Regions from separate parts of the Homo sapiens genome. Here regions 1 and 3 are each linked to region 2. Evidence: fine-mapped expression QTL. A gene starts in region 2. Each other region holds a variant in brackets. All regions are shown on one strand. Distances are between the middles of the regions. Region 1 holds the start of IFFO1 (intermediate filament family orphan 1). Region 2 holds the start of LPAR5 (lysophosphatidic acid receptor 5). Region 3 holds the start of ING4 (inhibitor of growth family member 4).

What was found.
Region 1: its variant is fine-mapped to the expression of LPAR5 in whole blood (TOPMed, PIP above 0.99).
Region 3: its variant is fine-mapped to the expression of LPAR5 in whole blood (INTERVAL, PIP above 0.99).

What each region holds. Positions count from the first base shown.
Region 1 is chr12:6,552,193-6,561,870 of GRCh38, forward strand. IFFO1 (intermediate filament family orphan 1) reads right to left here and starts at 3,850. Exons shown (of 10, transcript NM_001193457.2): 1 at 3,065-3,850. The coding sequence starts at 3,837. It overlaps NOP2 (NOP2 nucleolar protein), which reads right to left. Exons shown (of 16, transcript NM_001258308.2): 11 at 9,472-9,612; 12 at 8,739-8,878; 13 at 8,506-8,595; 14 at 8,255-8,377; 15 at 7,906-8,134; 16 at 4,679-5,450. The coding sequence ends at 4,801. RefSeq lists enhancers at 1-194, 1,826-2,326, 2,327-2,827 and silencers at 3,288-3,467, 3,578-3,817, 3,868-4,027. The variant C/T (reference allele first, on the strand shown) is at 5,138.
Region 2 is chr12:6,630,801-6,640,478 of GRCh38, forward strand. It overlaps LPAR5 (lysophosphatidic acid receptor 5), which reads right to left and starts at 5,159. Exons shown (of 2, transcript NM_020400.6): 1 at 5,107-5,159. It overlaps ACRBP (acrosin binding protein), which reads right to left. Exons shown (of 10, transcript NM_032489.3): 7 at 9,543-9,678; 8 at 9,260-9,427; 9 at 8,154-8,237; 10 at 7,275-7,604. The coding sequence ends at 7,482. RefSeq lists enhancers at 1,201-1,250, 2,101-2,160, 8,037-8,096 and a silencer at 3,076-3,125.
Region 3 is chr12:6,661,376-6,671,053 of GRCh38, forward strand. It overlaps ING4 (inhibitor of growth family member 4), which reads right to left and starts at 1,744. Exons shown (of 8, transcript NM_016162.4): 1 at 1,690-1,744. The coding sequence starts at 1,726. ZNF384 (zinc finger protein 384) reads right to left here. Exons shown (of 12, transcript NM_001385745.1): 10 at 9,385-9,463; 11 at 7,656-7,814; 12 at 5,102-6,740. The coding sequence ends at 6,339. RefSeq lists an enhancer at 1,715-1,774. The variant A/G (reference allele first, on the strand shown) is at 5,426.

The DNA.
Region 1 (9,678 bases), 79 kb before region 2:
CCCTTCCCTCCATCTTCCTTCCTGTGTCAGCCTCTGGGTCCCATCTCCTCATTCACAGCCGCACTGCAGTATTCCTAATAATAACTCCTCCACATCACCTCGACTGCCCCTCCCTGCTGGGCAGAGCAGGAGGAGGCAGCCAGCCCAGCCACCACCCTGCTGGCTCCCCACACAGCCCAGCTCCCAGCCTTCCTGGCTCCCAGCCCCCTTCCCTGTGTGTCCCGTAGGTGCTTCTCCCCTCCTCCCTGGCATTCTCATGCATACAGTCAGGCCACTAAGGGAACCAGTCGCATCAGATTATGTTTTCTTAGCTAAGACCCTTATCTTTTCTGGGTCTTGGTTTCTTCATCTATGATGTGAAGGCATGAACTGTGGTGCCCTCATGCGCCGGGAGCCCACGAGTCCCTGGAGGGAGACAGTAAGCCTGTCAAGGGCACGCTAACCCTGGACAAGATGTGTGAAAGAGGGCAGGAGGGGCTATCTGACAGTGAGCTCAACAGAGCCTGGAAGAAACTTAAGTAAGGCAGTTATAGCTAAAGGTTAAGCCTAAGGAAATCTTACAGGGTAAAAAAAATCTACAAATGAATCATCTGGAAGCCCACTACAGTTCTATTTGTTCTTTGGCCAGACTTCACACAGACAGGTTCATTTTCACCTCCATTTCCATCTGGTCTCACTTATAAGGTTCCCTTAACATGGGCAGAATTTGAGAGCGATATCCATGTGTTCTGCATGGACCAAATATCTCTCTTCCAAAAAACTGTATCCCTGGGTTGAAGAGAGAAAGCAGGGACCATTCCTATGTTGGGAAAATGGGGGCTCAAAAAAAGGTCACGCACAAGGCAGGGGAGCTGAAAATAGAACGCAGGAGGCCTTTAGCTACCTCCCAGTGTAGCGCTCAAGCCATCCCAGGCCTTCCAGGCAGAAGACAGGAGTTACAGTGTTGCTATAAAGAGACCAGAATGAGGGCAGGGAATCTAGGGAGGAAGAAGAGTCACTGCCAGTATCACGCACCATCCGAATCCAGCTAAGGCTCTCTACACAGCAGCGTGCTGCAGAGCGATGAGCTAATCAGTCCCCAAGGAATAACTCCTTCCTGTCCTGGACAGCTGGACCAAGGACAAACGCTCCTTCAGTTTAAAAAAAAAATGCTCCTGAGAACAGCAGTTGTTCCTGTGGTTATGGATGTATTCCAGAACTGTGCCTGTGCCACTGCTGAGCGCGTAGTTAACTCCTGCAGGGGCAGAGCAGGCTGGTTCTGGGTGGCAGAACGATGATTTCAGGACAACTGAAACTCCCAAGGACACATAACATGGACCACAACTAAGGAAGCCAGCACGAGGACAGGACTCAAGCTCAGAAAGCCTGCTGATCAGGTCAGGAGTTTGAGACTGGCCTGGACAACGCAAAAAGAAAAAAAAAAAATAGCCAGGCATGGACATGGTAGTGCACACCTGTAGTCCCAGCTACTCAAGAGGCTGAGGCAGGATGATTGCTTGAGCCCAGGAGGATGAGGCTGCAGTGAGCTGTGATGACGCTACTGCACTCCAGCCCGGATGACAGAGCAAGTCCCTGTCTCAATATTTTAAGTCAAGGGTCTGTAGTCATGTGTTCAACGCCACTTCTTGCCATCACTTTGCAATTATTGAAATGGGCATACTGAGCTCAGAAAGCAAATCTGATGCTTTCACGGGAGACAGAGCCACATTTGTGTTCTGGGTGGGATCACTAGTGCAGGAGAACACTACATCTTCTTCTGAAGGCAAAATGCTTGTAGGTTTTGCCTCTTTACTTTGCATTTACTTCTAAAATTGCACTTGTTCACCTACCAGTGTTTACGAAATCCTGTATTTGGGATGCTTTTTCTATAATAAAATATTATCATTTATGGGAAAAAAAAAAAAAGAAAGCCTGCTGATCTGTGATCTGGTAAACTCCAGCAGGGTGGAGATCCCTGAAGGTCGCCCCTAGACCCAGCGGTCATTTCCTAGAACATTCGGCCAATCCTCACCCAGTGCTGAATCTCCGCCACACTGGGCTGCATAGGTAGTTCCCAGGCCCGCCCACAAGGGGTCATAATAGCTGAGATGAGAGGGGAGGCCGCCAAACCAAAGCCTGTCAGTCACCCGCTCCCTCCTCAAGGCTTGGGTTGGAGTCTGCAAGACACTACCTCTGCTCTCACTCCTGTCCTATCGGCTTGGTTATCAGCCATCTAAGGAATCCACTTGGTATACAGCCAGCACTCCTGGCATCACATCCCTTTCCCTTGCCCCTTGGGGCCGGGCTCCTCTCAGACAGCCAAATCTTCATCCACAGAATGCACCGGGCCCGCCCCGCGGCCTCGCGGTCCTAGGGAGGGCCCATATCCCAGCTTCTCCCTGCTCAGTCCCCTGCTGGCTCTCCACTCTCCCTCCCCACTGGCGCTTTATACTGCCAAGATTCCCCTGTCAGCCCTGCTCTCCACCCTCACCCTAGTGAATTCCCTTCACTCTTTCTTTTCCCAGTTTGTTGACCTACTCAAGCAATGGCTTGAGGTCCCGGAGCTTTTCCTATGAAACCACAGCAGGTACCTGGTTTCCATCAATATTCTTTGGGAAACCTTGGGGTGTGAAAGAATCACTCGTTGCAAGGTACAGCCCCTCCCTCACCAGCCCCTTCCAGTTTCACTCAATTTAGTCTCCCAAATTTACGCTATATCCTTGCCTCCTACTTTTGAAGTTTATATCCCTAACCTGCCCCAGGGCTGAGACCGGTAGGGCAGAGCCCCAGTCCCTTTCACACCGCACAAAACCCGCAGTTAAGCCTGGATGGCAGAGACAAGCCGGAAAAGTAGGAATCCCCCCGTGTTCCGCTCCCAGCGTCCTTCTTCCTGTCACGAGCAGGGCTTCTGCATTCTCTGCGGATTCTAGTCTCCCTGCATCCAATTGCTTCCAAGCTCCTCATTACACAGCACAAACTTTACTCTCATTCTTTTCACCCCTGATTCTTCGGAACCCACACCAACTCGCGGCCCGTTGTGAGTGGTATGACACAGAGAGACCTGTCCCCCTTTCCCAATCCCTACCTCCGCTTGTACTCGTCCCGCTCCCGCTTCACTTTGGCCAGCACGTTGTAGAGAGCGCGGATCTCGGGCGTGATGGTGTCGATCTGGACGCCCACCCCATCCGGGTGCACCCACGACAAGCCAGGCCCTTGCACCAGAGTGGGCTCCAGTCCCGGCCCGAGCCGGCGGGCGTGCGAGAACGACCAGATGGTGCCGGGCATGAAGCGGGCCGACGAGGAATAGGTGGTGGAGGTGGAGGTGGAGGACGACGAGAGGCTGGCCGCGGAGGGCGCGAGGGGGCCGGCCGGGGAGCGCGCGGGCGAGCCCAGCACGCGCGCCGAAGGGCTGCAGACAGCGGCCGGCCGGGCGCCCAGCTGCAGCCCCAGGGGCCGGATGGGGCTGACGAAGCCGGTCTGCACTGCCTGGTCGCGACGACCCAGGCCCCGCCGGCCCTGCTTACCCTCCTCCAGCGCTTGCTGCAGTTGCTTCTCCAACAGCCGGTTCCGGCGCTCCAGCTCATGCACCTTGGCCAGGAAGCAGCGGAACCGGAGGTTCAGGGTCTTGAGCACGTTGATGTTGGAGCCCAGGTCATTGCGGAGGGCCATGGCGGCAGGCGGGGCCGGGCCCGGCCCGGGCGGCGAGTAGGCAGCAGGGCCGGCCGGCGAGAGAGGCGCCGGGGGCAAGTCTCCTCCCCCGGCGAAGTGGTCGCCTCCCAGTGAGTCCCCCAGTGGCCCGGCCAGGCCCTGCTGCTCCTGCTGCAGGAGGAAGAGGTTGGGGCCGAATAACGGATTCATGGCTGCGCCTTCTGCTGGGAGATGCAGACCGGTGCAGGAGCAGGGATGGAAGGCGAGCCAGAAGAGCCAATGCGGCGCCGGCGGGACAGAGCCGACCAATCAGGCGGCTCGGCAGCGGGGCAGAGGTCAGGGGGCGGGCCGAGGGGAAGCCAATGACAGGCTCCAATTGGAGGCCGGACCCTGGACCTTTCCGGGTCTGAGGCCGAGCCCTGTGATGAGGGGAGCCACCGCCTGGACTCCAGCCGGGGTGGCGTAAAGCCCAGGACCTCCAGTACCCCATGGGTTCTGGTGGCAAGCCCATCTCCCCTACACGACTTTTTTTTTTTTTGAGACCGAGTCTCACTGTCGCCCGGGCTGGAGTGCAGTGGCGCGATCTTGGCTCACTGCAACCTCAGCCTCCCAGGTTCAAGCGATTCTCCTGCTTCAGTCTCCCGAGTAGCTGGGATTACAGGCACCCGCCACCACACCCGGCTGATTTTTTGTATTTTTAGTAGAGACGAGGTTTCGCCATGTTAGCCAGGCTGGTCTCGAACACCTGACCTCAGGTGATCCACCCGCCTTGGCCTCCCAGAAAGTGCTGGGATTACAGGCATGAGCTAGTGTGCCCCGCCTTCCCCTACACTTCTATTGCCCTCCTCTCCCCGGAGTTCAATCACCCCTAGCTCTGACTCCAGGGCTTTCCCTTCCTGGGAAAACCCAAGGATGCAGGAGCCTAAAACTGACCTTATTTCTCAGTAGCACCCAACCATTCCCTCTCCTCAGAAGATCCCAGTCCCACCTCCCATCTTTACCCTTAAAGCGGCAAAGGCAGCACCCAGTTCCCTCAAAAATACTCAGTGGCCAGAGGTTTTAAAATGTGTATTAAATTTCATGGGTATGCACAGTAGAGAAGGCATCCTCACAGAGGCAAGAGTTCCAACCTGGTGACAATGGCAGTGAGCCACCCGTCTAGTTTTCAACCATCTAAGATAGCAGCAGCTGGCTGTTGCCCCTGGACTGAGATTTCTTCCTCTTTGCTGGTGGGGGGCGGCTGGAACGGATGGGAGACACAGTGGGAGGCTGAGGCCCCTTGGGGGTATCATTCTGTTTCTGGAAGGCAGCTTTCTCAAAAGGCTGCTCTGGCAACTGCTGCTTCTCAACCCCCTTGGCCCTTCCAAGGGGCTGATGATGGTCCTTAGGTTTCAGGGTGGCCTGAGTCTTGGATGGGGATAACACAGCCGGTGTTTGTGTGTCTGTGCCCTTGGGAGGGGCATTCTGCCTGAGGAAAGCAACTTTCTTGGAGGACTGTAATTTAGGTGAT[C/T]GTTGCTTTAGCTTCCCAGTCACCTTTGGCTCCCTGATCCCTTCGGCTTTTCCAGCTGGCTGACTGCTATCCTGGAAGCTGGAGGAAGCTTGGGTCTTTGTGACAGAAGGTACAGTGGACAATTCTGAGTCTGCCCCTTTGGAGATGCCATTCAGCTTCTGGAAGGAGGCCTTCTTGGGATGTTGCTGTTTCTGCAGCTGCTGCTTTGTCTTTGCAGCCCCCTTGGCTTTCTTGGCTGGCTGGCTGCTGTTCTCAGACTTGGGGATGACCTGAGGCAAGTCTACATTTGTAGGTGTGGCTGTTTCAGAATTTCCTGGGGTTAAAATTAAACAGATGGTGTCAGAAAATGGGCCTTATCACCATATTTTAATATTCTCATATTAAAATATGAGAATTGCCATTTCCTGGGCAGGAGCTCCACACAATTAGGTCAGTGCCTAAGAGCAGATTACCTAAATTCCCATTACTTAATATAACTTGGCCTTTACTCAAGTCCTAGTTGAACCTTGTATTAAAAGATCACTGCCTATAGGCCAGGCGTGGTGGCTCACACCTGTAATTCCAGCACTTTGGGAGGCCAAGGCAAGTGGATTGCTTGAGGCCAGGAGTTCAAGACCAGCCTAGCCCACATGGTGAAACCATCTCTACTAAAAATACAAAAATTAGCCAGGGATGGTGGTACACACCTGTAATCCTAGCTACTTGGGAGTCTGAGGCACAAGAATCGCTTGAACCTGGAAGGTGGAGGTTGCAATGAGCTGAGATTGCACCACTGCAGTCCAGCCTGAGCGACAAAGCAAGACACCGTCTCAAAAAAAAAAAAAAAAAAAAAAAAATCACTGCCTATCCTTGGGCCAAAAGGTTTCTACAGGAAGCTGCGCCCTCTTGAGGACAGGAAGTAACAAGATGCTGTAAGGAAGAGGTGATTCTCAGGGTTTTGGGGTTTTTTTTTTCTTTTTTTGAGATGGAATCTCACTCTGTCACCCAGGCTGGAGTGCAGTGGTGTGATCTCGGCTCACTGCAACCTCTGCCTCCTGGGTTCAAGCAATTCTCCTGCCTCAGCCTCCGGACAATCACAACCGTGCGCCACCATGTCCGGCTAATTTTTGTATTTTTAGTAGAGATGAGGTTTCACCATGTTGACCAGCTGGTCTTGAACTCCTGACCTCAGGTGATCCACCTGCCTCAGCCACCCAAAGTGCTGGGGTTACAGGCGCGAGCCACCACGCCCGGCCTCGCAGGGTCTTCTAAATGAATTTGAAGCACTAGGCTTTATTTATCTTTTTTTTTTTTTTTTTGAGGTAGAGTCTCACTGTGTTGCCCAGGCTGGAGTACAGTGGTGCCATCATAGCTCACTGCAACCTCAAACTCCTGGGGCTCAAGGGATCCTCCTACCTCAGCCTCCAGAGTAGCTGGAACTACTGTCTCCCTTTGTTGCCCAGACAGGTCTCAAACTCGTGGTCTTAAGCAATCTTCCCACCTCAGCCTCCCAAAGTACTGGGATTTATAGGCATGAGCCATCACCACACCTGGCCTATTTATTTTTTAAATCAGAGAAGTTTCTTTCCATGTGAATTGTGATGAAGTGCGGGATAATTAAAATATGTACTTTTTAAGTTATAGCAAATTTTACTATTCCTTTTTTTTGAGATGGAGTTTTGCTCGTTGCCCAGGCTGAAATGCAATAGCGTGATCTCGGCTTACTGCAACCTCCACCTCCCAGGTTCAAGTGATTCTCCTGCCTCAGCCTCCTGAGTAGTTGGGACTACAGGCACGTACCACCACACCTAGCTAATTTTTTTTTTTGGAGACGGAGTCTCACTCTGTCGCCCAGGCTGGAGTGCAGTGGCACAATCTCAGCTCACTGCAAGCTCCGCCTCCCGGGTTCATGCCATTCTCCTGCCTCAGCCTCCCGAGTAGCTGGGACTACAGGCGCCCACCACCAAGCTCAGCTAATTTTTTATATTTTTAGTAGAGATGGGGGTTTCACTGTGTTAGCCAGGATGGTCTCGATCTCCTGACCTCGTGATCCACCCGTCTTGGCCTCCCAAAGTGCTGGGATTACAGGCGTGAGCCACCGTGCCTGGCCACACCCAGCTAATTCTTATATTTTTAGTAGAGACAGGGTTTCACCGTGTCGAATTCCTGACCTCAGGTGAGTGCTGGGATTACAGGCATGAGCCACCACGCCCAGACAAATTCTACTATTTCTAAAGTAGCACTTCTCTCCCTCTTCCAACTAAACCCAGGGTTATATCCCAGTAAGCAGTGCTCTCAAGGCTGTTTCAGAAAACCCCACCCTTCCCTTGAGATCCAGGCCAGACTCCTCAAGATGGCTGAGAAAACAATCTGCAATGAGTGTGAAGGGCTCAGAGAACTGCTGACAAAGCTCTGTGGAGCTCTGTTCCAACCCAGTGCTGAGATTGCTGGACCAGCAGAGGTCCAGTACCAGTAAGTCCACCCTGTGCCAAGAAGGAAAAGAAACCACAACCTGCATTTGGAATGCATTTAGTGCTGAACAACTGCAGCCACTTGGCAGAATAAAGGAACAGGCCTCCATCCATATGAACACTTTAGCCTGTTCACATGGGGTCCAGCACTCAAAAGCAATTCTAGCTGGAATGAGAGGGTTCTCTCAGCCAAGCATGCAAAGGCTGGAGTAAGGGATGCATGAATCTTTCCTTTCCCTTCCTCTTGTCACACCATAAAGCCTCCTGAAAGGTGGAAAGAGCAAAGGTGGTGACGAAGGGAAGAAAAAGATTACTTACCTGTCTGGGACTGAGGGATAGAATTGGAAAATTTCTTGAACTTGGCAATGAAGAACCCATCCATATTGTGGGTATGAGGGTAGAAGCGTCGGGTAGAACGCAGACTGGGGTGGAAGCGCCTTTCTCGAAAGCGGGTAAAACCTTCCTGGCCAAAGTCTAGGCCCGTGGGCACCAGTCGCACATTCCTCTTTTTCAGAGCATAGTCTACCACCCACTCATTCTCTTCTACCTGGATGTGGGGGGAAGACAAAGAACGGAGGAAAAAGCAGAGCTGGAGCTGAAGGGAGCTCTAAGGGGCAAAGAGCCCCCCAGCCCAGCCTCCCCTGCTCTGCCATGGCAGAGGTCTCACTGTGATAGAACAGGTGCAGTAAACCAGGTAGCCTCCTGTCTTGGAGGTCGCATTGACAGAGTCAATAGCACTCAGGAGCAACTCCTTCTGGAGGTGAGCACAGCGCAGGATGTCCTTCTCATCCTGTCCCAAAAAGAGACCCAAAGGCAGCCTCAGGAGGAGAGGGGAGCCCAGAGGGTGTCCCCATCTCAGTTTCCAGCTCTACGAGACCCAGCCAAGGCCTCTCAGGGGCCCACCACCTGACTCCTCACCTTGTTAGTCTTCACGGCTGGATCCTTGGAGATGACCCCAGTGCCACTGCAGGGAGCATCCAGCAGTACTCGGTCAAAGCCCCCCACCACCTGGAGAAAAGATACAGATGAATCATATGTCTCTTCTGCAACCAGCAGGGCAATATTTACTAGGGTCGAGTCTAAACATTGAGGTCAGGAAGGGAGAAGGTCAACCGGAAGAAGCCTCAGAAGACACACAGCTCGAGTCTCACCTTGGGGAACTGGCGCCCATCATAGTGGCTGATAATGGTGTTGGTGACTCCCAGCCGATGCAAGTTGCCCACAACACTCTTGAGCCGCTCAGCATTGGCGTCATTGGCAAGGATCACACCCGTGTTCTTCATCAGCTGGGCTAAAGAGAGGGCAGTAACAGTGCTGATCAGCCAGTTCCACTGTCTCCACACTTGCTCCCACCCTCCTGTCCAGGAATCCACATGAGAAGTGTCATCACCTCAAGGCAACTTCGCTCCCAACAAGCCTGCCTACTGTATAGGCTGATCCACTCTGCACTAGCCCCTGGTGATCGGCAAGTCTACCGATGTGGTTTTCCCATTTTTACCAAACACCTATGTGGTCCTACATACTAAATTACTTCTTTTAAGTGACAGCAGCTTAATAAAAGTTATGGCTGCTGACTATGTGCTGAACACTGCCAAGGACTTCTAAACGCATCATTTTAACCCTCACAATCCAAGCGTAATACAAGGGCCAACCCAAGCACAATTACCATCCCATTTTATGGATGACAAAAGAGAATCCATAGTCAGATGGGTAGTAAGTGGCACACTGGAACCCAGGCCGACTCCAGAAACTGGTCCTCACCACCCTGCTAGCTACCTGCACATTGTGTTCCATGAGCACTAGTGAGTCAGCAACCCCAGCAACCCCATCTACTTTCAAAAGCAAGACAGCCCGATGAATCCCACCTGCCTGCCCCTCTCATACCCATGTAGCTGGTCTTTCCTCCAGGGGCACAACACATGTCCAGGATCCGCTCATGTTCCTGGGGTGCCAAGGCCATGACGGGCAACATGCTGGAGGCTCCCTGCAGCATGTAGTGCCCAGCCAGGTACTCGGGGGTAGCACCTGTGGAGAAGGACCACCCTGTGACATGCGGTAGGGACAGGGACAGAGGTAGAAGGGCTCTTGGGT
Region 2 (9,678 bases):
TGACAGTCACACAGAACGGCCCAAGCTGAGCACTGAGAGCTGCCAGGCCCCTGGCCTGGTCCCCATCCCACACTTCTGCTTCCCGAGCCCTGGGGCTCCCTTCAGGAGCTGAATGGGCACAGTGCCAGGCCAGATGGCGAAGATGGAAAAAACTGCCAAAAAGGAGGCTAACAGGATGTGGAAGGAGGGAATCTAGGTGTTGGGGAGGGGCAGCCCAGACCCTCTCCCCCAATCCTGCCTTGAAGAAGAGGTCAGGCTGTAGGAGAGATGCAGGAATCAAAGAAATGGCAGCTGCCCCAGAAAAGAAGGAACACCAGGAAGGAGGGACATGGAGGCCCCCATAGGCTGAAGAACGTCGGCACACACTGATGTCAGGTAAGTATACCACTCATTACACGTGTGTGCACAGACACATATACACACACGCTAAGAGATGTGCACACAAGACCCCTAGTAACATAGAACTCAGTGTCTATACACATCCTGTAATAAACACGTATGTGCATAGACAACTGGGCTGGGGAGGAAGAGAAAGAAGGCCCTGCCTTAGGGACAGTATCCTTACACAGACAGAACCAGGCAGCTTCACAAGCATGGGAGATCTCAACCCCAAGGCACTGAGGAGCAAAGTGACCACGACACACACAGAGGGTCCGGGACTGCTCCTTCTATATCACCCACCCCAACACCGCTCACACACCAGAATGTGTGCAGCCACCTTCCTTCTCCCTGGGTCTCCGTCCTTCAGCTTCCCATGTACACATCCGGGGGCCAGGTTACTTACCTCCTCAGGGCCTCTGGGATCTGTCCCATTTGCCCTCTGAGCTGGGCTGGGCACTGCTCTTTGCTGAGATAAGCCAGAGGGGCAGGGCTATTTTATGCCAGAGGCAGGAAGTGAGAACAAGAGTGTAAAAGTGAGCAGGAGGTGCAATCATGATCATTCCCTCACTCTCCTCCACACACCCTGCCCTGGTATCCAGCCTCTTGGGCAAATGACGTTGAGGGGAGCTGAAGAGAAAGGACCAGGGGGCTGGGAACAATGAGAAGGGCAGGGGCAGGGGAATGCCTCCTCTTTGCCCAGTTCCTCCCCCATACCCTTCCTGTGTTGCCCACCTCCCCGCAAACACCACATGCCTTGCTCTGTCTTTTGCCTCCTTTCTTTCTTTCCGTTTTTTTTTCTTTTGTTTTTGAGACGGAGTCTCGCACTGTCGCCTGAGCTGGAGTGCAACGGTGCAATCTCAGCTCACTGCAACCTCTGCCTCCCGGATTCACGCGATTCTCCTGCCTCAGCCCCCTGAGTAGCTGGGATTACAGGCGCACACCACCACACCCGGCTAATTTTTTGTATTTTTCGTAGAGACGGGGTTTCACTATATTGGCCAGACTGGTCTTGAACTCCTGACCTTGTGATCTGCCTGCCTCGGCCACCCAAAGTGCTGGAATTACAGGCGTGAGCCACTGGACCCGGCCTGCCTCCTCTTTCAAATAATTCACATCCTGGGTCCCCTGACTCCAATTCCTAGGGTCAGAGGTCTGAAAAGAAGGTTCTTACATCTCCCCATCCTCCTTGCCCCTGAGAATCAGCTCTGGAATAGCCCCACCCTCATTTTAGAGTCTCGTGGCCCATCAGTGTCTCAGCCCCGACACAGGAAGTCCCTCTTTAGTATGTACTCTAACCCACTCGCTGAATTAGCGAAGCCTACTTCCTCTGCTTCTGTGTTCAGGCAGCGCTGGGAGGATGCACCCTTTCCCCACAGACAGGCTTCATCATGAAGACTCAGTATCTCTGTATCCAGGCCCTCCAAACAGACCCCAGCTGTGCTGAGCCTCCAGCAGAAGCTTAGCTCAGTCCAAAGCCTTTGTGAAAAGCTCTGTCCCAGAGCTGTTTTGAGGGCACAAATGAATCCTTTTCTTCCGCTTATCCTGGTCCTGAGGGGCAGGGATGAGATGGAAGACTAAATGGAACAGGAGGATGAATCCTCATCCTCAAGGTTTGGAGACAGTACAAAGTCCCCAGGGTGGGCGGGGAGGCCTCCTTCTGCCCAGGGGCCACATTCTTCCTCAGAGAGGAGTCTCTGGCACGGATCCCGGGTGTCAGGTCGTGTCTTCCCTCCTCCCTGGCCCAGGCCTGCCTGCTTCTCCAGCCAGAATTCCTGCTCCTGCCTTTCCCCACCCTTCTCTGCTGAAGCCTGTCTTTTCCTGCATTTCCAGCATCATCCTCGGCCCTGGCTTCTCCCTCCCTGAGTACTCTGACCTCATCCCTCCTGACATTTGTCTGGGAAAAGGCAGAAAGCAAAGGTGGTCTACAGCTCAATAACTAGTTTCCCTGATGTGCGGATATCACCTTGCCATTGTGCCTCTCCCTTTACCCTGCTTTCGAGAGCTGGAAAAGCAAGAAAGTCAGTCCCAAGAGAAGCCACGGAGGCAGGCCCAGCCCCCTGACCTGTGTCCTGAGGTGGTCTGTGTGCATCTGACCCTTGCTTGTAGCCTGGCAGGTCCTGCTTCCTCAGGGAAATCCACCAGAGCCTGTGGGCTTTGCTGACCTCACCTGACTTTAGAGTGCACTGGCTTCAGCCCTCACTGCTCTTGCCGGTTCCTTCTCCTGGGTTTTGTTTTTTTTTTTTCTGAGATGGAGTCTCGCTTGCTGTGTTACCTAGGCTGGAGTACAGTGGTGCAATCTCAGCTCACTGCAACCTCCGCCTCCCGGGTTCACGCAATTCTCCTGCCTCAGTCTCCCGAGTAGCTGAGACTACAGGCGCCCGCCACCACGCCTGGCTAATTTTTGTATTTTTAGTAGAGATGGGTTTTCACTGTGTTGGCCAGGCTGGTCTTGAATGCCTGACCTCAGGTGATCTGCCCTCCTCAGCCTCCCAAAGTGCTGGGATTACAGGCGTGAGCCACTGTGCCCGGCCATTCTCCTGGGCTTTTTAAAATGCCCCTGGGCATAAAAGATCTCTGTCAGTAGGTATGTCCTGGGGTATGCACTGGGGGCAGCAGAGTAGGGAGAGCAGATGGCATCAGACAGATGGAGTTGGGCTCTAGTGCCTCTGAGTGGCTGGGTGGTGAGTCCTGTACATACTGCATGTGAGTAAGTTTCTGTCTCACCTCAATCCCTGCCTCCATGTCCCACTGGGTCTACAACTTTAGCTCACCCTAAAAGGAGGATTTCTGCCAGCCTGGGCAGCATAGTGGGACCCCATCTCTACAAAAAATATTTTTTTTTTGAGATAGAGTCTCGCTCTGTTGCCAGGCTTGAGTGCAGTGGTGTGATCTCAGCTCACTGCAACCTCCGCCTCCCGGGTTCAAGGGATTCTCCTGCCTCAGCCTCCCGAGCAGCTGGGACTATAGGTGCGTGCCACCGTGCCCAACTAATTTTTGTCTTTTCAGTAGAGACGGGGGTTTCACCATGTTGCCTGGGATGGTCTCGATCTCTTGACCTTGTGATCTGCCCGCCTTGGCCTCCCAAAGTGCTGGGATTACAGGTGTGAGCCACCACGCTCCGCTCTACAAAAAAATTTCAAAAAACTAACAGAGGCCGAGTGTGTGACTCGCGCCTGTAATCCCAGCACTTTGGGAGGCAGAGGCGAATGGATCACTTTAGCGCGAGTTCAAGACCAGCCTGGGCAACATGGTGAAACCCTGTCTCTACACAAACACACACACACCCAAAAAAAATACAAAAAGTAGCTGGTTGTGGTGGCTCAAGCCTATATTTCCAGCTATTCTGGAGGCTGAGGCAGGATAATAGCTTGAACCCAGGAGGCGGAGTTTGCAGTGAGTCTAGATCATGCCACTGCACTTTAGCCTAGACGACAGAGCGAGACCCCATCTCAAAAAAAAAAAAAATTAGCCGGGCATGGTGGTGCCTGCCTGTAGTCCCAGGTACTCGGGAGGCTGAAGTGGGAGGATTGCTTGAACCCAGGAGTTTGAGGCTGCAGTGAGCCATGTTCATGCCACTGCACTCCAGCCTGGGCAACAGAGTGAGATCCTGTCTTGAAAAAAAAAATGGCTGGGCACCGTGGCTTATGCCTGTAATCCCAGCACTTTGGGAGGCCGAGGCAGGTGGATCATGAGGTCAGGAGTTCAAGACCAGCCTGGCCAAGATGGTAAAACCCTGTCTCTACTAAAAATGCAAAAATTAGCCGGGCATGGTGGTGCGTACCTATAATCCCAGCTACTCAGGAGGCTGAGGCAGAGAATTGCTTGAACCCAGGAGGCGGAGGTTGCAGTGAGCTGAGAGCGTGCCACTGCACTCCAGCCTGGGTGACAAAGGGAGACTCTGTCTCAAAAAAAAAAAAAAGAAAGGAAGGAAGGAAGAGAGAAAAAAAGGAGTAGTTCTGGAGATACAATCTGGTGGAGGTCCCCTTCTTGTCATGGGGGCCCCACAACCACAGGGAAGAGGTAGGCCCCATCCTCATGGTGTGATGTGAAGGTATCATAAAGCCCTGCTGACCTCCGAATATGTCCCCCACCTCCAAAATTCCATCCCCTGAAGCCACCATCTATCAGAGCCATAGGGACATCAAAGACCATCAGTCTAATCCCCTTATATAGATGCACCTTTTGGGTTAAGGCAGCACTTCCTGAAGACCCCATTACAGTACACCTTGGCTAGTTGGGAAGGATAACACTGAGAACACATCTCTGCCAGTCAACCCATTAGCAAGTTTGATTAGATCAGCTCATTGTCATCTGCCTGGCCCTGGGGGATGTGTGGTGTAGGGGTTGAGGTTTAACTGCGAGTGGAAAAAGTGTGTAAACAGTCCCCAGAGGGCCCTCCCTGGGAGGCCCAAGGCTCAGTTCCACAGTGGGGGCCTAGAGGGGGAGGGGGAGGACACAGCCTCTGCGAGATGCCCCAGAGTGGGGGCTTCAAGCATCAAAGAGGAGCACTCCCGAGGTGTAGCAGGCATGTTAGCTGTTTGTCCAGCGCCATCTGAAAAGATCTGTCTATTTGAGGCAGCTCCTTTCGGCTTTTTACTCTGTTCAGAAGGGTTTTCCAGGGCCCATGCCCACCCTCTTCTCTGTCCCCCACCCAAATCTCCCATTTCTACAGGGGGGTGCTCCCCTTGTGCTCCCTGTGCAGTTCAATTCGTGACACCCCCATACCTGTGCTCCGTGTTGCTCTGCGCTGCCCCAAGCTGGCTTCCGCTGCCTGCTCTGGGCTGGGCTGGGCTGGGCTGGGCTGGTAGGACCTGCTCCCAGGGCGGGAGGGGACACACCCACCTCAGCAGATCTCAGCCCATCCCTCCCAGCTCAGTGCACTCACCCAACCCCACACGGGCCAAGGAGAGAGTGAAGAGGAAGCATTGCCCTCAGAGGCCTTCACGGACTGGCCAGAGAAGAAACCCCAGCAGCTAAGGATACTTAATCCAGCCCCGACTAGGAACTGCCCCCACCCATCGTTCAGATATTCCTGCTGTGTCTGGGAACTCTTCCTGGCACACCCACCGTCTGATGCCAGATGACTAACCCACCAGCCTCTCGCTGTCCTCACCGGTTCCCCCTGGGTGTCTGTCTTCCTTTCCTAGGTCTGCCAGGTGGTTTAGTCCATGCTACTCGTGGCTTAGTCCATGCCACTCGTGGCTTGTGCCCCACCCTGCCCGGGGCCCTCTTCATGACAGTGCTCTGCTAGGTCCTGCCTCCCACTGAGCACACTTGGCTCCCGCATCGAGCAGTCACTAGGCTGGATGGTTCCTCTTTGCTTAGGTCTGTTTCTCCTCAGCCCGTTGTCTTGTGTCCTCGGGCCAGACAACACAGAGACAAGTGGCCCTGTGGGCACAGGGCTGGGCATGTTGTCCATGCTCAATAAATAAAAACAAGTTCAAGTTTTTTGGTGGTAGGTGGAAAAGGGATTGTGGTGAAATGAGTTTGGGAAGCACTAGGTTAAACAGGTTTCTCTATTACCGCGCTCCGGAGGGCCTTAACATGCTGTCAGATGATAGGCCTTGTGTTGATCATGGAAACTGGGTGAAGGGTACATGACAGTGCATTATACTTTTCTATTTTTGTGCATGTTTGAACTGTCATAGTAAGCAAGCTTTAACAAAATGCTGTTAATTACTGCGAACCTATAGAAGGGAGAGAGACTCTACAGTGTCCCTGGAACATACTTTGGGATATGTCAACTTATTAAAGGCCAATGCTGAGCCAGGCACGGTGGATCACACCTGTAATCCCAACACTTTGGGAGGCCGAGGCGGGCAGATCACGAGGTCAGGAGTTCAAGACCAGTCTGGCCAACATAGTGAAACCCCTTCTCTACTAAAAATACACAAAAAATTAGCCGGGCATGGTGGTGTGCGCCTGTAATCCCAGCTACTTAGGAGGCTGAGGCAAGAGAATCACGTGAACCCAGGAGGCGGAGGTTGCAGTGAGCCAAGATAGTGCCACTGCACTCTAGCCCAGGCAACAGAACAAGACTCCGTCTCACTAATAATAATAATAATAATAAAGGCCAATGCTGGAGTCATACCTCAATGTAGGTTGTTAAGATGCAACCACTTAAACATCCAGATCATCTGGCAAATTCCTGTACACCAAGGGTTTCCTTCCTGTAATCCCAGCACTTTGGGAGGCCGAGGTGGGAAAATTGCTTGAGCCCAGGAGTTCGAGACCAACCTGGGCAACATGGAGGGACCCCATCTCTACAAAAAAATATAAAAATTAGCCAGGCTTAGTGGCACATTCCTGTGGTCACAGGGACCTGAGAGGCTGAGGTAGGAGTGTGGCTGGAGCCCAGGAGGTCAAGACTGCAGTGGGTGGTGATCATGCCACTGCACTCCAGCCTGGGTGACAGAGCGAGACCCTGTCTCAAACACAAAACAACAACAACAAAAACAACCCCAAGGTTTCCTGATCTAGGCTATAGTTCCTGGTTTTTCCCTTCCTGATTAAGTGCAAGGTGCACACTCCCTATACCCCAGGATTGGTCCCTTTGGAAAAGATCTCATCAGGCTTTGGCCTTTATCCTACAGAGGAACAATACTACACTCGCATCTGACATCACGGGGCTTAGGGCTTCAGAAATGAAGACAGGTGCCCACATGCCCACATCATCCCTAGGGCCCCAGCCTTCTTGGCCTTCCTCAGTTCACCTCCCTGGGTTCTCAGGTCTTCTGCTTCTCCTGGCAGATGGCTGCTTCCCTGAGCACCATTCCCATGAGATTCTCTCACCGGCAGGTGGATCCATAAAACCAGGGGTTGGGGACTGACTGCCACGGGGCAGGGTAGCAGTGCTGAGGATGGGGATCATAACCAGAACAGGCCACACAGGCTGAAGATCAACATTTTATGTAAAGTCATCTTTTAAGGAGGGCGCAGCTCCCACCGTGGCCCTCTCTGGGACTGTTGCTCCAACCCAAGGAAATGTGAGTAGGGGCCGAGTAACAGACCCAGAAGGGGCAGCCTGAAAGCAATGGGGTCTCAAAACAATAGAGAACGTGGGCAGGTTGGGCTGGGGTGTGGGCAGAATAGACGCCAGCTCATCCGAACTGGCCTAGAGTCAAGGTGCTGAACTCCTGGCTCCATCGAAGCACAACGTCCTCACTTTTGCCAGGGCTCAGCGCACTGTAAGTCTCATTCTGCAGACATCTCATGCGGGACACCTACACAGAGATTCAGTGCAGACGGTCTGTATCACAGAGCCAGGTGCCAGGAGTGGGGAGGAGGGGAGGTGTCAGAAGCCCAAAAGAACGAGAGGTGGGCAGGCATGGGCACAGGGCAGTAGAGGGAAGGAGGAAACTCAAATGTGGGTTTTTAAAGCCAGAGGAGACATCAAGCAGCCCAACCCCTTTCATGCAGAAACAGGCGGCTGAGGCTCAGAGGGGGAAGTGCCTCATCCCAGGCTACTTGGTGAGTAAGAAGAGGAGACAGACCGAGACCTCAACGTCCAAGTCCTGGCCCAGCCAAGGGTTCTTCCTGTGGTGCTCTTAGGACCCTCCTCTGTTATCCACCAGCTGCCTAGGAGGGCCTTGCTTCCGCCAGGACTGGAGGAATGGAGGAGAGCCTGCTGGTGGAGGCCTCTGCCCCAGAGATGCAAGCAGGAACCGCTTTCCACATCCTAGCTGCTCGCAGAGGGGGCCTCAGAATAGACCAGTTATGGTGACTGATTGAGGGGGTGCTGGGAGAAGGAGGGGCAGGGCAGGGGTGCTCACCTTCCGATTGCGGTTTCTCATCAGACACTGCTGGCTTTTGAAGGAACAGTAGTTTGGGTACTGGATATAGTCTGTGTCACAAATCTAAGCCAAGAGCCAGAGAGAGGGAAGAGGGTATCAGAAGCCTCACCAGGCAGCAGCACTCCAGGGAATATCTGCTAGGGCAGAGCCAGGGGCAGGGTGTGGCCCAAGACCCAGGTCTTCCACACACAGGCGGCCCCTCACTCCGCTTTCCCTCTGCCTTTCCCCTGCCGCTCTGTCACAGGTTGCTGGGAAGAAGCCAGGAGCCTGGGAGAGTATGAGGCTGCCAGTCAGCTTACTGGGAAAGTGGCTGAGGAAGCGGGAATGGGGCAGGACGGGGTAGATAAGGGTCCAGAACATGGGACAGGGACCCGATTAGTGGCCTGATGTCAAGGATTTTTCTGGTAATGGTAGATAAGGGAAGGGGGAAGTGAGTCACTGCCTTCTTTGGACCTCGCCTCCCCATTCCAGATCAAGGGGCCCAGGGACAAGAGCTGGACATGGGCCCCCCAGCTCAGCTACCAGCCCTTGCTTCAGCTGCCCTTACTTTTCCTTGCCTTGGTTTTCCCTGCTAACTACAGGAGGAGAGGCCTGGATCTAAAACAACAGGTCATTCCACAGGGGAGGTAACTCAGGGGAACGGGGAGCCAAGTTGATTTAATTGAGCAGGGAAGGCACTGGAAGAGCTGGGAAGCCCGTCAGGCTAAGGCCGGGAAGTCCTGGATCACAGGGTTGGGCAGTGGTGCACGTGTCACTCAGTCATTTCTTGTAGAGATGACTCTTTGATTGAGTAGGAAGTGACTTGATCACAGCCACCCAGCAAGTAACTGGCAGAGTTGGGACCAGAACCTCTAGCTCCTGTTTTCTCAGCCCTCTGGGTCCCCACTCCTTTGCCTGCTCTATTGGTGGAGGGTGGGGTGGGGTGCAATGGTCTCTTGGAGAGAGGCAGGAGATTCAGTGAGGACGGGTTCTCAGAAGCCAGGGGCCCAAGCCCCCTTCCACAAACTAGCGCTACTCACAGCAAGTAACTGGAAGGAATGGGGTGAGGGTAGGGATGGGGCTGAGCTTTGGGGAAAGGTTCTAACCTTGGTAGGGAAATCCCCATCCTGGAAGCTAAGGAACTCAGTCTGGAGCCACCCAGAGACTCGGACATCTTCACAGCCTTTCGTGGCAAGCCGGGCACACCAGAAGTCCATGTGGAGCCCACCGTACAAATCCAGCCCGTAAAAGCGGCCTGATTCTGGGGACCCTACCTGTGGCACAGGAGATAGGGGAGAGGTGCGTGCCCCTCCCCACCTGCTGGCCACCACCACCCCACCCCTGCCACCCAGTTCTGCCTTTCCCACTGCGGGCTGCCGGGCTAGATACCTGGTTGCCGATGGACAGGCTCTGGGAGGCAAGCAAGGGGCTGACAAAGGGAGTCTTGTGGGAGGTGTCGCATTGTTGCCGCTGCAGGCTGGCCTCTGAGTGGCACTGCTCCAGCTTCAAGGAGCAGAAGTCACAG
Region 3 (9,678 bases), 31 kb after region 2:
ATGAGCCACCGTGCCTGGCCACCAGCCTTTGTTTTTTTTTTTTTTTTTTTTTTTGAGAGGGACACGGAGTCTTTCTCTGTCACCCAGGCTGGAGTGCAGTGGTATGTATGATCTTAGCTCACTGCAATCTTCACCTGCTGGGTTCAAGTGATTCTCCTGACTCAGCCTCCCAAGTAGCTGGGATTACAGTCACATGCCACCATGCCCAGCTAATTTTTTTTTTTTTTTAAAGTAGAGACTGGGCTTCACCATGTTGGACAGGGTGATCTCAAACTCCTGACCTCAAGTGATCTGCCCGCCTTGGCCTCCCAAAGTGCTGAGATTACAGGCATGAGCTACTGTGCCCAGCCTGTCTACCTCACTTTCTAAGCAGGAAGAAGCCACCTTAGATTCTTCCTTCTCTCTCAACCACTCAGTCATTCAGTCAGTCCTTTCATATTTAACTCCTAAATACTTCTGTAACTCCCTAAAATCAGGTTCTTATCTCTGTCCTGGAATGTTATCACTAATTGATCTCTGTTATCAACAATATCATGCTCCAATTTACCATATATTAGTCATTTTCCTCTATAAAAATCATACTCTACTTTAAAATGCAAACTTCTTCGTTTGGCTTAAAAGACCTTGTCCAATCTAGCCTCAGCCTCTTTCTCCAGTCTCCTTTCTCAATTTCTTACCTTAGATTCATAAATATCAAATACGCTGACCTCTGAGTCATAAATATCAAACACCCTTGACCTTGCCACAAACCCATCACAGTACCTTTGCGGATGCTTTCCCCAACCTGGAATTCCTTTTTTCTCTCCTCACTGGCAAATAACCTTCAAGACCCTATTCAAACATCACCTCCGCTGTAAAGCTTTTCCTACATCCCCAGGTAATTACCCCCCTTTTCTCCAGGGTTGCCTACCAAGTGTCCTTTTTAATGTATTTCCATTATCTCACTTGTCACAGTGTTTTATAATTATTTGCAGAATCTGTTTCCTACTAGATCGTGAGCTTCTTGAGGGCAGGAGCCTTGTCTTACTCATTTTTCTATCCCTAGTGCCTGCCATTATGTCTGACCCATAGCAGGACCTCAATAAATATTTGTTGAATAAATGACTCCGGGCCCTAAAACAAATGTAAGCGCACAGAGCAATAGGCTTTCTGCAGGGGTGGTTTACATAAATCGCATAAACACCAGATTTTCATTTGATGGGAATTAGATCTTTACTCCATGAAGAGAAGCGTTCTAGTTCATCATCTGACAGTGGTCACTCATCACCACCACTCTCAACCCCATGAGAAGCCACTTTTGAGGAAGAATGGAGTGGAGGAGAGGTCTTTACCGCTTCTCCAAATGGCAGTGTGTGATAACGATTCTGAACGACTATGGGGAAAAAAATCTACCGAGGCTGGAGACCCTGGAGAATGGGGGCAGCAACTATCTTCCTGGCCATGCACACTAGCCCTTCAAGACACGTCTCTAACCCCCACACCGCACCCCTCCCTCGTCTACACCCATCAGCGGGGCCTCGATCCTGCTGCCCCGCCCCCTCTTTCTCCGCACCCTCCAATATTTCCTGCCACAGAACCGCTTCATAATTGTGACCTTCTCGTCACTGGAACTTAAGGGCTACAGATCCTCTCATCCCTGATCCCCGCACCACTCTGCAGCCCCGACCCCCACCTCCAGCCTGCTCTTACTGTCCAGATAATGTTCCAAATACATCCCCGCAGCCATCTCGAAGCAAAACAAAGCAACTTCCGATCCGCCCCGGAAGTGACTGTAACGCGACAGGGGCCGAAGCCATTTTGCGGCTAAAGCCTTTCCGCCCTTAAAAGGAGAACTTCCGCCCTTAAAAGGAGAACTTCCGCCCTTAAAGGAGAACTTCCGCCCTTACTATATTACCGCCGGTACACATCCGCCCGACACTGAAACTTTTCCTTTTGCATGGTAGCCACGACCGCCCACAGTGAGGCGGCTGTAGCCCGCTTCCGCCCTTACAGACACCCCAGGACGCGACCGAGACAGGTATGACGTCACTGGAGGTCGCCATTTTGCATTCTCTAGCAAACTTTTTTCCCTCCAAAACGGGAATGTATGGTAATCCGTGCAGGGGTAACTGTTCACTTTAGGCTCATATTGCGTAAACATACCTTCTCAGCAACTGGAAGATCCAACTTTTTTTCCCTCTTTTGCAGAATGACTTTTTTCAAGCCAGTTAGTTTCTTAAGGAAGTTGGGGAAGAGTATCAGGCCTTGAGACATTTAAACCGTCTGAATTTCTATTCACTCACACAAACACCATCTCCCCCAGCATTATTTTTTTAACTTGAGAAAGATGATCACCTTTCTACTTATAAATACAAAGAATGACTCATAATAAAGCTATAATTCTGCACATCTTTTGTCAGAGCTCCTGTACGTTACACTAGAATACACTTTCACATATAAAATATTACTTCCTGCCTTGCCCTCTTGCTTTTTTTTTTTTTTTTTTGAGACAGAATTTTCACTCTTATTGCCCAGGCTGGAGTGCAATGGCGTGATCATGGCTCACCGCAACCTCCACCTCCCGGGTTCAAGTGATTCTTCTGTCTCAGCCTCCCGTGTAGCTGGGATTACAGGTATGCACCATCACGCCAGACTAATTTTGTATTTTTAGTAGAGATGGGGTTTCTCCATGTCGGTGAGGCTGGTCTCGAACTTCCGACCTCAGGTGATCTGCCCACCTCAGCCTCTCAAAGTGCTGGGATTACAGGTGCGAACCACTGTGCCTGGCCCCTCTTGCTACTCTCTAAGGGGGAAATCTCGTGTTTTTGTTTTCCTTTTGTTTATATGTGATGTTAGCATCATAATTCTGAAGGGATTGAGGGATGCAGCAGTATCACTACTGGGCTAGTTGGCTAGTTAGTTGCTAGCCATCACTCTAGTCAGCTATGGTAGAGTGATTTCTATGGTTTTCATCAGAATGGGAAGCAGTCAAGGGTATGAGAGGCTGCCAACACACTAGGCTGTCAACACACTGCCAACACAAAGGCCATAACCTAATAGTGGTGTTAGTAAGATAGTATTTTAGAGATAGCTGCCACCCCTCACACTTTTCGTACCCTCACACATCCTTCATAAGAATTACCAATGTCTTACGGCAAGTTTTTAAAGAGACAGACTTTCAGCTATATAATTTCTACCAAATATGTGGAGAAGAGGAACTTCCAACCCGGGGCGGATTGGAAGTTGCTTTGTTTTGCTTCGAGATGGATGCAGGGATGTATTTGAAACATTATCTGGACAGTAAGAGCAGGCTGGAGGAGGGGGTTCAGGGGCTGTAGAGTGGTGGGGGTATCAGAGCTGAAAGGATCTGTAGCCTGTAAACCCCAGGTTTACTAGTGTGCAGGTAGTAAGATACAGCAATAGAATCCGGGAAACTGCTCTAATTACAAAAGTCATGCTTTTCGGTAACTTGATCTCTGTGCCTGTTTTACTATACAATGAGACTACTACCTCCCTCATAGGGTTGTTGGAATAAGTGAGTGTGAGTGTATCCATAAAAAGAGTAGATTCTAGTTCTAATACTGGTGATGAAGTTAGGGCCATTAGGGCCTTTTCAAGAGTTGGTGAGAGTGGGAGGAAAAAGCAGTAAATATGCAGGGAGCTAAGAAACATTGGCATATTTGGTCATATGTGATACATTCATTGGTATTACACAACATATTGAGACACCATCTTAGGTGCCCACACAGGATATCTAGCACTAAATTAAGTGGGCTTTATTTATCCCAGCCCAACTACATAACAAGTACTATTGGCCAGCAGTCCCAGAGTTCTCAGGATGTGGGAGCTTGGTCACAACTTTCACAACTTTTTCGGTGCTTAAAGCAAGGTTTTTTTTTTTTTGTTTTTTTTTTTTTTTCCAGACAGAATCTCGCTCTGTGGCCCAGGCTGGAGTGCAGTGGTGCAATCCCGGCTCACTGCAACCTCCGCCTCCCAGGTTCAAGTCATTCTTCTGCCTCAGCCTGCAGCTGGGACTACAGGCGCGTGCCACCACACCTGGCTAATTTTTGTATTTTTATTTTACTTTTTTGAGAGAGAGTCTCACTCTGTCGCCCAGGCTGGAGTGCCATGGCACGATCTTGGCTCACTGCAACCTCTGCCTCCTAGGTTCAAAAGATTCTCCTGCCTCAGCCTCCTGAGTAGCTGGGATTGCAGGCGCCCACCACTATGCCTAGCTTATTTTTTGTATTTTCAGTAGAGACGGGGTTTCACCATACTGGCCAGGCTGGTCTCGAGCTCCTAACCTCATGATTCACCTGTCTCGGCCTCCCAAAGTGCTGGGATTACAGGCGTGAGCCACCGTGCACGGCCATCAATTTTTGTATTTTTAGTAGAGATGGGGTTTCACCATGTTGGCCAGGCTGGTCTTGAACTCCTGACGTCAAGTAGTCTGCCTGCCTCGCCCTCCCAAAATGCTGGGATTACAGGCGTGAGCCACCGCACCCAGCCTTAAAGCAAGTTACTTAATTCTCAAAAAAGGTATCTTCAGAGTTATCTAGTCCAATCCCTTCACTAACAGTTGAAGAAGCACCCTGGCCAACACTGGTTGATGGTAGGCAAAGGGCTGAAGTCCAGGTTTCATGACCACATTCTACTCCATAGTACTACAGCTCTCCTGCATAAATCAATCTTGCACCCCTTAACCGGTTATGATTTCCACAAGGTAACAAATACACATATGTATACACATTGCCAACTGCAAGCCCCTCTTCCACAGACTCAGGCAGGAGTGTAGGTCCTTTCAAGAGGCTTCCATTTTTCTTCCATAGGGAGCTTAGCTGTTTTGTTAACACATAACCAAAGCCTTGCTCTCACATATTTAGGCAATGCAATCCCCATGACAGAATGTGTATGTAGAAGTCCTCATAAACCAGGATTTCACTGGAGACATCATGAAACTGTACCCTTCCATGACTGGAGAATTGCACAAATGGGGCATCATCACACAAGCACTTGTTCATCACACACACACTCTGGTATAAATCCTCAGTACTGTTCTTGGACATCTCCCCAAATACCTTTTCCGCATGCTCGCTCACATCAGTAGCTCCACTGCCTCTGATCCTTTTACATGAATTTATTTCTATACAATGTTCTAAAAACACCCCTTGGTTTGTACATAAGTTTTTTTCTTTTTTTCTTCATTTTTAAATTACTTTATAACAACTGGTTTCCTGATTTTTTTTTTAATTTCCTTTCCTCTGAAATCTGCCATGATTTAAAAAAAAAAAAAAAAGACAAAAAGAAAAATGCTGTGGCTAGAGGACAGGGGTGGAGAGAGGGAAAAAAAGGACAAAAATAAACAAAACATCAAATATGAAAATTCTCAGAGATAATGCATTTATAAACACAGAAATGGTTACAACAAAGATGGCCGTGATGAGTG[A/G]GTATAATATATTTATATATATATATTTATATATAAATCCGTGTCCGGCATCTGACTGTGGCACCTAGGGAGCTAAGTCCAGTCCTTGCGTTTGCCTTGAACTCTCCCTTCTCCGCAACACCCCTGTTTTGGAGTTTCACAGATAACACAAAGCCTCCCACAGCTCCTTGGGGGTGGGTTGGGGAGACTGAGAGTATAGGGTCTTTGTAGGCAGAGAAGGAGAGAGGCTTCAAGGAAATCCGTAAAACCATAACACACACTTCTAAGCCACCTGTGACCAACTTGGGAATTTCTGGCCCCTTGGGGACCACATCTCAGCCCTTGCCCCCTTCAAATAAAAGGAGGTCTAGCCCCTACCCCAAATCTCCTTCTACCAGCAGTCAATAGGAAGCAAAGTGAGACGATGTAGGGGAAGAAATGGCTCTCAGGGACTGAGGCATTTGAGAAACCTCTGTTCTTTTGCAGGCAAGAATAGAACAAGAGGCTGGTTGCATTTGGGGCTCCCTTTTCTCTGTTATCTGGGAGGGCCAGCCTCTAGTCTTACATCAGCCCAAACTTTGAGGATAAGGAGGGTAAGGATAGGGTAAGTGGCCACACTGGACAAGGTTCTATGAGGTCATAGCAAATCCTTCCCTTGAGCACCGACCCCCAGTTTTAGAAGCTTTGCTTGGGAGGGGAGGCTGCTGGATGACACCATCAGCTCAGTATTCCTTTGCAATCAGGAGGGCTGATGTTCCTTTTGAAGAAGAGTTCAGAAAAAGGATGGTATCCTGTGAAGGAAAGCCGTGACAGAGGCCCAAGGAGATGGAGCCAAGGCCTGTCAAGGAAGAAAAGGACTTTTCCCACCAAGAGTTGGAGAAAGAAGACACCAGGACTACTTCTTCCTCTTCCCAGTGGGTGGCAGCACGGATCTCTAAGAGCTGGCCAGGTGCTCCACCTGGATGGTGCTGGTGGTGACAGTGAGGCAGATGTCCTTATGATGCTCCGCCGTCTTATACGGGGTCAGGTCAAAGGAACACTGGGGTGGAGGGTTGGGATTGCTGTCCCCACCACCCCCACCCTGGGGGGCTGCCCCAGGAGACTGGAAGTGTGGTGGTGGCTGTTGCTGCTGCTGCTGCTGCTGCTGCTGCTGCTGCTGCTGCTGCTGTGATGCCTGGGAGGCCTGGGCCTGGGCCTGGGCTTGAGCCTGAGCCTGAGCCTGGGCTTGAGCTTGAGCCTGGGCCTGGGCCACTGCTGCCGCTGCTGCTGCTGCCTGCACCTGTTGCTGAAGATCAGGCGGGTTGTGTTTGCGCATATGTTTCATAAGGTATGTTTCCTGAGGGAGATGGTAAAAAGAAGTTGAGGGATAAAGAGGAAGGAAAAGAGATTACTTGTAACTAGCACCCCAGGCTCTGATTCTGCTGTAAGCAGAGTAAGCTTTATACTGGTTTTCTGGAGCCAAGACTGAGCAAAACTCAAGTAGCACTTTCAGTGGCTCACTACTGAGAAAAAAAAGAGAGGAACCTTTAGAAGTCACTCAACATTCAACTGGCAAAGGAATGAGCTGCTATTTTTTTCAAAGACCCCTGAATGAAACAACTTTACAACCTTTTCTGGAGTCTCATGGAAAATATCTAACTGGGCCAGGTGCGGTGGCTCACACCTGTAATCCCAGTACTTTGGGAGGCTGAGGTAGGTGGATCACTTGAGGTCAGGAGTTTGAGACCAGCCTGGGCAACATGGTGAAACCCCATGTCTACTAAAAATACAAAAAGTTGCTGGGCATGGCAACATGCACCTGTAATCCCACCTACTTGGGAGGCTGAGGCAGGAGAATCGCTTGAACCCAGGAGGTGGAGGTTACAGTGAGCCGAGCCGAGATCACACCACTGCACTCCAGCCTGGGTGACAGGGCGAGACTGTGTCTCAAAAAGAAAAAAAAAAAAAAAAGAAGAAGAAAATGCCTAACTGAAATCCAGCTCCCCTCAAAATTTCAAGTGGCTTTATTTTGCCTTATGTTTAAGTAAAATGAAGAATTACAGCTTATGCGTCTCTATAGGATTAGGAGATCAGGCATCCCCTAAATTCCTCAGAATGGGTCTAATTAATTTCTGAATATTTACCTGTTCTGCTAAGTTGGAGCTAGGGAGGCAGGGTATTCACTGCAACAGATCTCTACCCAGAAAATGGGGTGAAGTGGACTGTACTCTTAGAGGACTATGAGGAAGGAGAGAAGAAACGGAGCACTCACTGATGTGTATGCCCGACTGCAGATAGTGCAGGTGTACACCTTGGCATGCTTCACTGTGTGCGTAGACAGGTGCACCTCTAGTGAGGCTGCATCCGTGTACGCCCGATGACAGTTGTGGCACTTGAAGGGTTTATCTTTGTTGTGTTGCCGTCTGTGGGACTGAGAAAATTGGGAGAAACCAGAATGAATACATTGTACTCTTTCCTCCTGCCCCCTTGACCTCGATGGAAAGCAAAAAGGTAGGTGTCAGGCCTCCCAGCTTCTCCCTCTATCTGAAGAAAGTAGAAATTGTTTCAAATGAAACTTGAGAAGCTACAGGCTAAGGGTGGAAGCATACCTCATGTAGCACATACCAGGATCCCAAGACAGCTTATGCCCGTCTCACCAGTCCAGTGGTTCTTAAAATGAGGCATGGGGATCTTTAGGGAACACTAAGACCTTCACAGGGGGCCCACAGGGTCAAAACTCTTTTTTTTTTTTTTTCCCAGATGAAGTCTCTCACTCTGTCGCTCAGGTTGGAGTGCAGCGGCACAATCTCGGCTCATTGCAACCTCCGCTTCCCGGGTTCAAGCGATTCTCCTGCCTCAGCCTGCAAGTAGCTGGGACTACAGGCACATGCCACCAGGCCTGGCTAATTTTTTTTGTATTTTTAGTAGAGACAAGGTTTCACCGTGTTGGCCAGGCTGGTTTCCAACTCCTGAGCTCAGGTGATCCGCCCGCCTCCGCCGCCCAAAGTGCTGAGATTACAGGTGTGAGCCACCGCGCCCAGCCAAATCTTTTCAAAATAATAAGACAATGTTTGCCTTTGTCTCTCTTGAACCTGGGAAGTTGCAGTAAGCTGAAATCACACCACTGCACTCCAGCCTAGGTGACCCAGCGAGCCTCTGTCTCAAACACGCACACGCGCGCGCGCACACACACACACACACACAAACACAAAGATGAAAAACCTAACTGAAATCTTGTTCCCCTCAAAATTTCAAGTGGCTTCATTGTGCCTTATGTTTTACATGTAACCCTTACAGAGGTTACATGATGTGTGATAACACAATAGGCCAGATGCAGCAGATCTGAGAATCTACTCATCTTCTAGCTTAAGACATTAAAGACCCCTGTGCCAGGTGCGGTGACTCATGCTTGCAATCCTAGCACTTTGGGGAGGCTGAGGCGGGAGGATGGCCTGTGTCCAGGAGTTCGAGACCAGCCTAGGGAAGATAGCAAGACCCCATCTCTACGAAAATGAAAAAAACAGCCAGGTGTGATGGTGCATGCCTAGAATCCCAGCTACTTGGGAGGCTGAGGTGGAAGGATCACTTGAGACCGGGAGGCTGAGGCTGCAGTGGGCCATGATAACACCACTGCACTCAGCCTGGGTGACAGAGCAAGGTCCTGTCCCAAAAATAAAAAATAGACACCTGCAAAAATGTATAATAATGCCATTCTTCTCACTCAGTTGTTTTTGGAGGGTCTTGGAATATGTTATTTATGTTAACACACAATGGGTTTATTTTTGTTCTTTCTAAACAGATTACTATTATAAATATTTTTCAGGTTTTTCAGTTTTACAACGTCTATGTAGACAGCTATTACCCACATAAACAAAAACTCTTTGGGTCCCTCAATAATGTTTGAGTGTAAAGGAGTCCTGAAAACATTTGAGAACCACGATACTATTCAAATGGCCCCATGTCTCAGACTCAAGGTCTTGTGTGGAGGGTGGAACATTTACCTGCAGATTGGAGAGTTGTGTGAAGGCTTTCTCACAGCCTGGGTGTGCACATTTGTATGGTCTATCACCAGTGTGGATTCTGCACAGGATAAGAGAAAAAAGGGAAAGAATGTCAGCAAGACCATTTAGGAACTGGCTCAACAAATCTTCTCCAGGCCCATCCTGCTCTCCTAAGGAGGCACATCAGATGGGCCTCCAAGAGGCACCAGCCTTCCTCTCTGATGTGGATCAGGTACTGATGATTTGCTTCTGGTCAATGCCTGCATCACTCAGCTCAAGCTGAGGCTCCTCTCT